3 linked regions of the Homo sapiens genome follow. The protein of the gene in region 2 purifies or fractionates together with the protein of the main gene of each other region. This does not show direct contact. Each region holds a gene or a part of one and is shown on either strand. Other genes may lie near its edges. The genes, in order: UXS1, HEATR3 and DGKE.

Region 1 (3,746 bases), on a different chromosome or scaffold from region 2:
GACAACAGTAAGGACTTGGTAAGATTTCCTGGTCAGATGAATGATTGGTTAAAAAACTTTCCTGCTGGGAGCGGTGGCTTACGCCTGTAATCCCAGCACTTTGGGAGGCCGAGGCAGGCGGATCACGAGGTCAGGAGATCGAGACCATCCTGGCTAACATGGTGAAACCCCGTCTCTACTAAAAATACAAAAAATTAGCCGGGCGTGGTGGCGGGTGCCTGTAGTCCCAGTTACTTGGGAGGCTGAGGCAGGAGAATGGCGTGAACCCGGGAGGTGGAGCGTGCAGTGAGCCGAGATCGCGCCCCTGCACTCCAGCCTGGGCTGAACAGAGCGAGACTCCGTCTCAAAAAAAAAAAAAAAACTTCCCATGGCTCCATAAATCCCCTACTTTATTAATTCTAAACCCTTGCAGCGACTATAGAATACCCCCAAAATAAACATTGAAACTGCTGTTCGAAGACCTGGGTTCTAGCTCCTGCTCCCAGGCCTTTCTGGGTTCAAATTTTGGCCCTCCTTCTCTTACTATCTGTGTGATCATCCATAAATTTCCTAATCTCTCTTGGCCTTAACTTCCTCACCTCTAAAATAGGAATCATTATAGTACCGATTTCCCAGGGTTGCTCAATGATTGAGACAATGGCACTAAGAATCATGACTCACACAGTTAAGCACTCAACAAATGTAGGTAGTATTACTGCCATAATAATAGTTATTCAACTTTAAATGGTCTTTCCTCTTGGGTCTCAGCTTTCTTACTCAAGATTGACCACACACACACTTTAGACTAGTTCTTCCTCCCTTGCAAAACTACACACATCTAACACCCATCCGACGCCTGAAACCTCCCCTAGCAACCCGGAGTCCTGCTGGGGTTTTCCAGCTCCACCTCCTGAACAGCTGGGCTGTAGCACACAGGCTGGATCTACTCATACTTGCCTTCCTAGAGCTCAACTGAAGTCACTTCAGACAAGTGAAGTACCCACTCACCTCTGGAATCAGATCTTGGTAACGCCAACAGGTTAGCAGGTGATTTCATTTCAGTGTGTGTCTGGGTGGCTAGCATTCAAACGCAGCTCACACTGGGAGCTATTTCTAGTCCAATTTTGCTACTTGGTAACGTATTAATAGCATCAATTAAAACATTCCCAACGAATAGATCTTTAAAAGGACGGTTTCTGACTTCCCTAACAAGCAGAGGGCCGACCACCTGCCTGCGAAGTGCCCCTCCTGCCCTGTCTCCAGGCAGCATGCTGTGAGCGATGACAGAAACTGGACCCGCGCACAGAGAAGCTGCAGGCACGCCCTGCCCGGCCACCCAGCTGCCTGCCTGCTTCGCCCGGCCGCCGAGCCCCGGGGGAAAACCTAGAATGGGGATGCCGGTGCGCCCCGACACCTGGGCACGGCCGCGGGCCGGGGAGCCGCCCACACTTGGCTCCCCAAGAGTTAAACGCTGAGTAATTTTCCTGAGGAGCAAACAGTCGGAGCGGGGGCTCTGCCAATGGCCACAGTATTTTTATCCGACTTAACCGACACCGCGGCGCGACCTCGGCTGTCCCCAAGGGTATCCCCACGCGGCACGCTCCGGAGTCCCCGACCGGGACCCTCGCCGGCTCCCAGCGCGACATGGACGACAGCGCCGCCGCCGAGTCCCCCGCGCCCGGGCAGGAGGCAGAGACCTGGGGCCGCCCGAGGACTGCTAGGGGCCCCTCCGCCCGGGGTCCGCGCCCGGGCCTAAGCGGTAGGGGGTGTGCGCCCAAGTTGGCCCGCTTTGCTGCAAGAGTGGAAAGGGGTGGGAGCAGAAAGCGCCGGCCCCGCCCGGGGCGGGGAGCAACGCGGGGCTGCAGGGCCGCCTCGGGGCCCCGAACCACCGCCGCCCGGCCCACCGCGGCGCCGGGGAATGAATGGGGCTCCCCAGCTGGCAGCGGGCGCGCACTCACAGGCGACGTAGGCCAGCAAGGCGATGCCCAGCAGCAGCTTCATCCTCCTGCGGTTGACGGCAGACACGAGGCGCAGCAGCGCCTTGCTCACCATCCCCGGGAGCCGCGCGGGTCCAGGGCCCTACCGCGCGGGGGCCCGCCTGCTGCACAATGCGCGGCGGCGGCGGCGGCAGCGGCCCCGAGAGCCCCGCCTCCTGCCGCCGCGCGCCCCCGCCCCCGCGCGCCTGCTTCCTGCTGGCGGGATCACCGCGCAGGCGCGCCTCCACCCCCTTCCTCCGGCTCCGCCCCCGCCCCTCCGGCTTCTCTACCCGCAGGCGCAGTTGCCGCCTTTCTTGCCTTGGTTTTCGAAGAATGTGACCTGGAGGGCTGGTGGGCGGTGCGGCGCGCCGCGGCGCATGCGCGTTCCGGTCTGTTTTCCCTGAGTTAAAGCGCGCGGGTGCCAGCCGGGAGGTGCGGCTGGATTCGTTTCGCTGAGGTGCGTCCCCAACCCAAGGGCACGACTGCAGTGGCCAGTTTCCGAGCCCCGCCCGGAGGGGGGCACGCGGTGGGCATTCCGGTGTTGCAGTGAAACGAAACTTATTTGCTAAACTTGGCCGAGCCTTAGAAGTTGAATGCCTGCCTCAGAAAGTTGCCTCGTTCTCTGGGCTGTTTAGTTGGCTTTTTTTAGTTAGAATATCGGCAGCGAAAATGATAAATCCCCTAAACCTTGCCGAAGTAAAAACTGGCTGCGTTTTTTTTCCTTGGCTATGATCAACTGGGGTGCCTTTGTTTTAATAATAGTCTTTTATTATTATTTTAAAAAGCAGTGCTAAGTATATTAATTTAGGATAGACTTGGAAAAGAAAAGATGAAATTGCGCTGTCTCTGCCTAGAGAAAAACCCTGACCATGTTGTCGTGTGTGTTTCATTCAATCTTTTTGTTGAGTATATCTGTTTTATGAGTGCTGTACTGATTGCATAGGAGGTACCTGTGTTTAAAAAGCATTTACTGAATGATGATTACAAGCAAGGAGATGTATCAGAAGATCCACAGATAATCGGAAGCTTGTCATTGGATCTGGAGAGAGCTGGTCCCATGGAGGAAAAAAAGACAGGTACACACAGATGTGTGTGATGCCACATTAAGAGAGATCCCGGATTTGGGATCTGCAGGCTTCAAGAGGTCATCTTCAGCTATACGGAGAAGTTGAAGTCAGCAGCGGCTCTCCTACCTCTTGGAACCTCAGGCCATTTTGCAAAACTTAATAGATCACCCTCCTTTAGATTTATTAGAAACCTCCAAGAAAAGGAAATATGGCAGCTGGTACTAAAGCAGCAGCTTTATGTTACATCTTTCAAACTATAGTGCAAATGATGTGATTCTGATAAAACCTACCTCCATCCTACCCCTCCCCTAAACCTGTTGAGAATCCCTGACTAGGAGGAAACACTGAGCGGTTTGCTAAGGCGGATTGCCCCTGCTATGCATGCTGCCCATAGATGGAGTGGACTTCTTTCGAGAAGCCCAGCTCCCTGACTCTGACGTGTCCAAGGAGGCTGCCAAGTGACAAAACACCTGGCATGGGAGCCTGAGTCCTGGGTTCCCAGAGGGGCCAGGCCCCCAGAGCACACCAGTTTGGAACAAATCGATTTTGTTTGTAAGTCTGCATTTCCTCGTGGCTTTCTGGCTATGGTTTTTGAAAAGAGAACTAGAGCAAGTGGAGCTCTAGGCCTTTCCCATTCCATGACTCCGTGGTTTTTAGATTAAAGATGAGGAGCAGAAATGGAAGAAAATAATAGTTCATTAACATTTGACCTATGGGCAAAATC
Region 2 (3,746 bases):
GGATTACAGGCATGCACCGCCATGCCTGGCTAAGACCTTGTCTCTACAAAAATTAAAAAAATTAGCCAGGCATGGTGGCATGCACCTGTAGCCCTAGCTACTCAGAGGCTGCGGCAAGAGGATTGCTTGAGTCCAGGAATTTGAGGCTGCAGTGAGCTATGAACGTGCCACTGCACTCCAGCCTAGGCAACAGAGTGAGACTCTGTCTCTAAGGGGGAAAAAAAAAGACAATTGAAAACTGAAGTTTGGAAATATTCAAATAGTAAAATATACATTATTTTTAGCTCATGTACTGTTTTGGAATATCAGTATGGTTATTTCACTTTCCATAGACAATTTGATAATTAAGGTTATATAAATTTATATTACCCATTTTAAGAAATGTTGGTTGATAATGTTAAGTTTAAGTTGGCGTTATATATTTTCAGAGAAAAAAAAAGCTTCCTTCTTTCTTTAGTCTTAGAGAAATGCTTTATTATAGTCTTTACAGAAAGGCAGGAAGCAAGTCTGTCTGCTCCATAGCAAGTTCTACAGGTCACATAAGGGCTCGTTAGTAGTGTGTGTTAGCGCAGCCATTCCAAGAAAGACATCTAAGCTAAGCATCTAAAAGCAGGTTTGGTGTTTCTAAGTGCCTGGTGTCTGAAATGAACTCTTGTTTAAATCTTAGTATGCCCAGCTACTTCTTGACACAGTAGATAAGTTTCAGGGTGAATTCTGTTCAGAATTCCTGAATATTTGTCTGTTCTCTCCAGCTAACTAAGTGACGCTTGGGGAATAGCCATGCAGATAGATGGAAACCCAGTTAACGGGGGCATGCTCCACTGTACCAAGAGGAATTATAATGCTCGTTTGTACTTCTGGCACTTCATGACTTTTCTTTTACCTACCCCATTCCCCGTGTGCTCTATTCCAAGCGCAAAAATCTTCTAGTAGGCTTTCACTAAGGAAATTCCCCAAAAACATTTTCCCAACCATTGAGAGTTGGTCATTTACTTTTTTTTTTTTTTTTAAGCCCACTGACAAGGAACTGAGAGAGACTATAGCATTGCTGACAGCCCAACAGACTGCTCTGGAAATTATTGTCAACATGTGCTGCAATGAAGGTTTGTTAACATTTACATTTAGACATTTTCCCCCTGAGCCAAGAGGGAAACTCCCGTGGAGATTTTCTTAACTATTCCAGTTCTGCGTGGTTTGCCCGCTTCCCAGATCCCTCTGATGACGAATGGGAAGAGCTTTCTAGCAGTGATGAAAGTGACGCATTTATGGAGAATTCCTTCAGTGAGTGCGGGGGACAGCTGTTTTCTCCCCTCTGCCTCTCCCATGAAGTTCACACGGCTCTCACCAACTACCTCATCCCAAAGAAGGTAATCCATTTTCATTCTAGGCTTACCGTGGAGCATGGGAAAGGCTTAAGCAAGGTATTCATTTTGTGTACAAAAGAAGCAAGCTCACACTTCCAGGTTGTAGATGGTGGTAAGATCTGAGACAAAGCTGAGCCTAACAGTACTGGAAATAGGCGAAAAGGTCATTCTATATGAAGCCTAACCATTTCACTTAGGAGTAATATGTTGGAATTATGTAAGGGAATCGTGTTAAATGACTACTCTTTAACCTTTGCTTTACTGCCTCTTTTAAATCTAGATTTTTGAGAAAACTGCCTTTCCAAACAGCATTGCAGTTGACCTATGTTCTAGGAACCCTACTTGGAAACCTTTGATTAGAAAGTAAGAACTCTTCTGCTTTCAAAAACATTTGTCATTATTTTATTTTATGAAATGATGGGCTATTAAATAGAAGGTGCTGACTCCCCCTAGGACCCAGAAGTTTTGTTCCTGGGTATATATACCAGAAAAATATGTGCCCACATGCCCTAGAATACATGTATATGAGAGTGTTCATAGCAGTGTGTGTCACAGTTGCCCCAACCCATAAACAAACGTGTTGTCCATCAGAGTTAGAATGGTAAATAAATTTTGACAAAATCACGCAGTACAATACATGCAGCAGTAAAAGGGATCTGAATTAGAGCTACTCACAACTCGGATGGAACTTACATTGTTGAACCAAAAAAGCGAGACATAAAAGAATACACACACTGTGATTCAGTTTTTACAAAGTTGAGAAACAGGCAACATTGAACTATTTTGTTCAGGGATGCATACCTTGGTGATAAACCTATTAAAAAAAAAAAGAGGCAAGGAAATGTTTACCATAGAAGTCTGTATGGTGCTTACCTGTAGGTGTCAGGGAGGTGGGATATTATATGGAAGAGATACAGGGGCTTTCAGGGTCCAGCAGTGTTAATTTCTTTCCCAGGTGCATGGGTTTTGGTTTCATAGACTGTTTGTTAAACTCTCTATGTATGTTGTGTACTTAACTGTATATATGTCACATTTCACAATTAAAAATAATTTTAGGCTGGGCATGGTGGCTCACACCTATAATCCCAGGACTCTGGGAGGCCAAGGTAGGAGGATCACTTGAGGCCAGGAGTTTGAAACCAGCCTGGGCAGCATAGCAAGACCCCATCTCTACAAAGGAAAAAAAAATACAAAAATTAGCCTGGCATAGTGGCACTCAGCTGTAGTCCTAGCTACTTAGGAGGCTGAAGTGGGAGGATTGCTTGAGCTCAGCAGTCTAAGGCTGTAGTGAGCTATGATGGTGACACTGTACTCCAGCCTGGGAAACAGAATGAGACCCTGTCTGAAGAAAATTATAATTTTAAGGATGCTACCCTACATAGAAATTTTTCTAAAACATATTCCTCATGACTCATGAATGAGTTGTGTATCAGAGGCCGTGAATATTCAAGCAGTTTGATTTGGCAGATTAACAGTTCACCTTATAATTCTAGCACTTTGGAAGGTACAGGCAGGAGGATTGTTTGAGGCCAAGAGTTCCAGAGCAGCCTGGGCAACATAGCAAGACCCCTATCTACAAAAAATAAAAAACTTAGCCAGGTGTGGTTGCATGCACATGTAATCCTGCTCCTTAGGAGGCTGAGGCAGGAGGATCACTTGTGCTCAGGAGGTTGAGGCTACAGCGAGCTGTGATCACACCACTGCACTCCAGCCTGGGCAACAGAGTAAGACCCTGTCTAAAAAATGATGATAAATTTTAGAAAACACAAAAAACAGTTCACCTTGTGATTCTTTGCTAACTGCCATAGATACCTTGTATTTACAGATATTTCCAGTCAGAACGTGAAGCTTAGGCTAAAAGTTAATACTGAATTCTGATGGGCAACTTCTGGAGAATCAGATGGCATTGTTTCACTTCCTTTCCAGAATGAACACTATTCAGTGCAGAGCCCTCTTCTGTCTCCAGAGTCTTGTGTCCCTCCTGGATGTGGAGCACCTGGGAGGAGCCGCAGCCCTTCAGACGCTTGCACAGCATCTGTCACAGCTGCTTTTTTCTCAACCAGGTATTTAGACTTTATTGCGAAAGACTACGCAGACGGAACAGAATTTTGAAGGGGCAGGAATTTGGATTTTGTAAATGTATATTGTTTGTCATCCAATGTGCAGAAACCTTTCCCAGACACAGGAATCATGTATTTATAGTTGCCATGGGGTACAGAGTCAAAACGAGGTATGCAAGCAGCTCCTGGGCTTATAATTTTCTTTTTTGTTAAAATTGTTTGCATCCAGTTATATCAGGCCAGTCAAGGCTGTATCATAAATATCATAAAGGCCTCATTAAGGTATTTGGATAATTCTCAGCCAAGCACGGTGGCTCATGCC
Region 3 (3,746 bases), on a different chromosome or scaffold from region 2:
TTGTCTAGAATACATTATTTTGAACATTTATTCTTAAGCCTCTTTGATAATGTGTAAAATTATTTAAAATAAGACTTAAAAACAGGTATTGACATTATAATAGCGTTCATGCTAATGAAAGAATTTCTGCAAAAAAAATTAAAAAAATTAAAAAGCAGCTTCCTATTTACTGCCTATTTCATTTCTTAAGCATGTTTATGCGCCTTTCTACTTGTCAGAAATAAAACCCATTACAATGAAGATGTCCAGACTTAAGGCTCAAAGGAGGCTAAGTGTTAGTCCAGAGCTGGAAATCCTGGAGGCCAGTCCTATTTTACCAGAGTGGACCTAACGGGCTTTAATTTTCTCAACTGTGAACTGAGTTAGAATAGATCATTTGCAAAGCAGCATTCTCCTTTACCAATTTCCAACATCAGCAAAGGACATCTTCACCTATTTTCAAACAATATTTAAGGACAAAAATGTGTTGTCCAGTGTGTATATAAAAGACATTAAAATATTCTTGGCTTAATCAAGGTCACTTATCTAAGATTCTACATGTCCTGAAAGACCAAGCGTCAAAAGGAATATTCCTTTCAGTGTTCTTTTTGAGTATATTTCGCTATGGTACCAACAGCTATATTAGCAAAAGACATAAAAGTGCTGCCTTGGAATGACACTTGTTTTCACTGCACATTCATAGTACAAAACCTGTGACCCATCAGTTTTGCGGCTGAAGGGAAAAGTTAATTTGTCCATATTTCATTTTTCCTTATTTAAAATAAGGAGATAATCGATAGGAACAAAAGCTAAAATATACAGTGGCCATGAAGCAGGCACCACTTAGAAACCTCTGTATTAACGTTAGGAGCCAAGTTTTATTACCCAAAAGGGCAGGCTGGCTGAGGAGTGGAGGCTGGATGCATCGTCTCAGCAAATGACTACTGCAAAGCTGCCACGCTTGCACAAACTCAGGGATGTTTATTTATTAGCTTGTTTCCTCAAAATGAGTTTAGGTCATCAGCAGAGATTAAAGCAGGCCTCTACACCACTCTATGAAATCCTGATTCCCACGGCGCATTCTGGGACAGTGAGTGTCCACGAAGACCATACCTGTAATCGCAAAGCTTGGGTTGACAGCCACACTGCTGCTTGCAAACCATACAGTAACTGCACAGGGGCACGTTGCCCCGGATCCAGTGGTGGGGCATGGCGTCCAGGACCTTGGTGTCATTCTTGAGCATAATCTCCTTGCACTGGAAGCGCTTGTCGGCCTTCCTGAGGCAGCCCTCGTCCACGCGGAGCCCGCAGCAGTCGCAGAAGGCGCCCTGCAGAATGTGCTGCGCGCACACGCAGCAGTAGGTGGGCTGGCTGAACAGGTCCGTGTCGCGCCACCCGTGCTTGCTCTTGCGGAAGATGTCCCTGCGGTGCAGCTGCCGGCGCGACCGCTGGAGGCTACACCAGAAGGTGATGAACACCGGCAGCAGGACCGAGCACAGCGTCCACAAGATCAGGTGCCCGTCCGCAAACAGGCCCTCGGAGGGCGAGCCCGGCGCCGGCCGCCTCTCCGCTTCCATCTTCTCCAAGGACGATACCTAACCAGAAAAGAAACAGGCGGTGCACCCCGAGCTCGCCATCCCTTCCCCGCCCCCTTCCTGCCTTTCCGGGGCCAAACCGGGCGCCCTCAGTGAAGGTGGCTCCGCTCTCCCGAGGGCGGGACTGCGCCTCGTCCCCCCGTCTCCCGGGACCTGCCGCGCCGAGAAGGCGACGTCCAGCCATCACGCTCCAATCCCCACTCCCCAACCCGCCCCACCTCGGGAGCGCGTCCAGGAGCCCAAGGCGGCTGCTGCTGCCGCCGCCGCCTCACCTTGCCGCCGGTCTGACCCACGGAAGGGCGCAACATACAGGGGCAAGCTGCCCTCCACCGAAAGGCCGGGCGTTCAGGCCAGGCAACGCCGGTCGGCGCCCGTAACCGTCGGCCCAGGCCTCGCACTCCCCTCCGGGGCGCCGTCTCCTCCCGGGCCCCACCCGCTCCCACGCGCGGCCCGGCGACCCTAGCCCCTCTCGGGAGGCCTCCGGAGACCTGCGCCGCGCCGGTCCTCGAAGCCCTACCTCGCGCGGGTGGAGGCGCGGCTCCGGGCCAGCAGGCCTTGGCCGCCTCGCGCAGGAGGAGAACGACGCTGGGCCGCCAGCAGGGATGAAGCCGGGCGGGGGAAACGCTTAAGGCTCCAGCCGCACGCACGCCGATCCGGCGCGCGGGGCCGCGAGCTGGAGGCGGGGCCTGTGGCGGCGAGCCCCGTGGCTGGGCGGAGCCAGGGCTGACGGGCGGGGCGGAGGTGTGAGGTGGGAGGGGAGACGGACCGGCCTGAGGGGGCGGGGCCGTGGAGGAGGCTGGAGACGGATGGAAGAGGCAGGGCACTGCGGCTGGGGGCGGGGCCTAGGGGAAGGGGGCGGAGTAACAGTGGGGCGTTTGAGAGGATGGAGGGTTGAATGCCAAAACTTCGTAATCGTAGAAAATTCTGGAAAGCCGCCGGCGGGGCAAGGCCACGAGGATCCTCCTCGCAGCACCGCGCCGCGCGGGGCCCAGGGGCCGCGCTCACGCCCGCCGCTCGGCGCAGACACGAGTGCCCCCGACTTGAGCCGAACCTCTAGCCGATGCCGGCGCCGCCGCCGCCGGGGATGCGTAAGCCGACTGGGAAGCGAGGGGGGGAGGCGGCCTGCGCGGCACCGCCCGACCTGGCCGCGGCGGGCTGAGGTAGGTGTGGCGGCCGCAGTAACGCAAACCTGAGGGCTCCTCCGCTGCGGAGCGGCGGGCGGGCGCGGAGGCCGAGGGCGAGCGGGGCAGCCGCCCGCTCGTCGCCGCTGACCCCGAGCCCGGCCGCGGTTTCCGCCCCCTGCCGTGGCGGGCGGGCCTCCCCTGCGCTACCCCCTCGCCCGCGCCCGCCAGCGCCCGAGGCCGGGGAGAAAGGGGAGCAGCGGGAGCCGGGGACTACCGGAGATGGGAGCACGCCTCCTGCTGCTGTCGTCCAGCCCCAGGTTCCGGAGGAATGCTCGCTCCCCGCTGGAGTCCTACCAGCCCAACACGGACCTGAGCCGCGACCACGCGGGCTGCAGCCTGCAGCACATCAGCTACCCGGAGAACGCGGACGCGGAAGCACCGCTGCTCAGCACCCCCGAAGAAACACGGAATCCAGAGAGGCACAGGCACCGCCCCGGCGCGCACAGCTGCACTCAGCGGCTTCCTTCCTACTACATACATACATAGGAGTGGGAGCCGAGGACCACTTGTTGCTTGCGGACTTCCTCTAGCATAAAAGATGGAAAGAAAACACACACCGAAGCAAGGGACCAAAGGAACAGAAAAGAAACGCAGAGATCATAGGAAAACTGCAAAGAAATACTTGATAATATCTTCCAAACGATTAGAGAAGACATAACATTCATTAAGAATACACATATAGATGTATATATACGTGTATGTGTGTATGTATATATTATTATGTGTGCATATATATGCATGTGTATGTGCGTATATTTGTATTAACTGTAGAAGATAAAGCTAGACACTAGTAAAAGTGGTAAAGCAGATTTTAATAATATACTATTGTAATAGGGAAGAAGGTACCTCGTGAACGGAACTGAACTTTGTGCAGAAGTGACTAGGTGTTTAAGAGGGAGGAGGAGGGAATGTGAAGGGGATGAGCAGGAACTCAGTAGTCAGGAAAGTGAAACTTGTGAAGGGTGGGTCAGTGTAAGTAAGGTTAGGC

Evidence for each region.
Region 1: the proteins of HEATR3 (region 2) and UXS1 purify together in Homo sapiens (co-immunoprecipitation; 3 studies listed by BioGRID and IntAct, with this or other methods). This does not show direct contact.
Region 3: the proteins of HEATR3 (region 2) and DGKE purify together in Homo sapiens (co-immunoprecipitation; 2 studies listed by BioGRID and IntAct, with this or other methods). This does not show direct contact.

Annotation. Positions count from the first base shown.
Region 1 is NC_000002.12:106,192,211-106,195,956, forward strand, and holds the start of UXS1 (UDP-glucuronic acid decarboxylase 1), read right to left. Parts: upstream 2,092-3,746; 5' UTR 2,032-2,091; coding exon 1,938-2,031; exon of another isoform or gene 1,064-1,937; coding exon of another isoform or gene 988-1,063; intron 1-987. UniProt on the Homo sapiens protein: Catalyzes the NAD-dependent decarboxylation of UDP-glucuronic acid to UDP-xylose. Necessary for the biosynthesis of the core tetrasaccharide in glycosaminoglycan biosynthesis.
Region 2 is NC_000016.10:50,082,925-50,086,670, forward strand, and holds part of HEATR3 (HEAT repeat-containing protein 3), read left to right. Parts: intron 1-1,012; coding exon 1,013-1,103; intron 1,104-1,183; exon of another isoform or gene 1,184-1,209; coding exon 1,210-1,367; intron 1,368-1,644; coding exon 1,645-1,727; intron 1,728-3,290; coding exon 3,291-3,427; intron 3,428-3,746. UniProt on the Homo sapiens protein: Plays a role in ribosome biogenesis and in nuclear import of the 60S ribosomal protein L5/large ribosomal subunit protein uL18 (RPL5). Required for proper erythrocyte maturation.
Region 3 is NC_000017.11:56,832,606-56,836,351, reverse strand, and holds the start of DGKE (diacylglycerol kinase epsilon), read right to left. Parts: upstream 2,202-3,746; 5' UTR 2,092-2,201; exon of another isoform or gene 1,883-2,091; coding exon of another isoform or gene 1,847-1,882; intron 1,575-1,846; coding exon of another isoform or gene 1,557-1,574; coding exon 1,093-1,556; intron 1-1,092. UniProt on the Homo sapiens protein: Membrane-bound diacylglycerol kinase that converts diacylglycerol/DAG into phosphatidic acid/phosphatidate/PA and regulates the respective levels of these two bioactive lipids.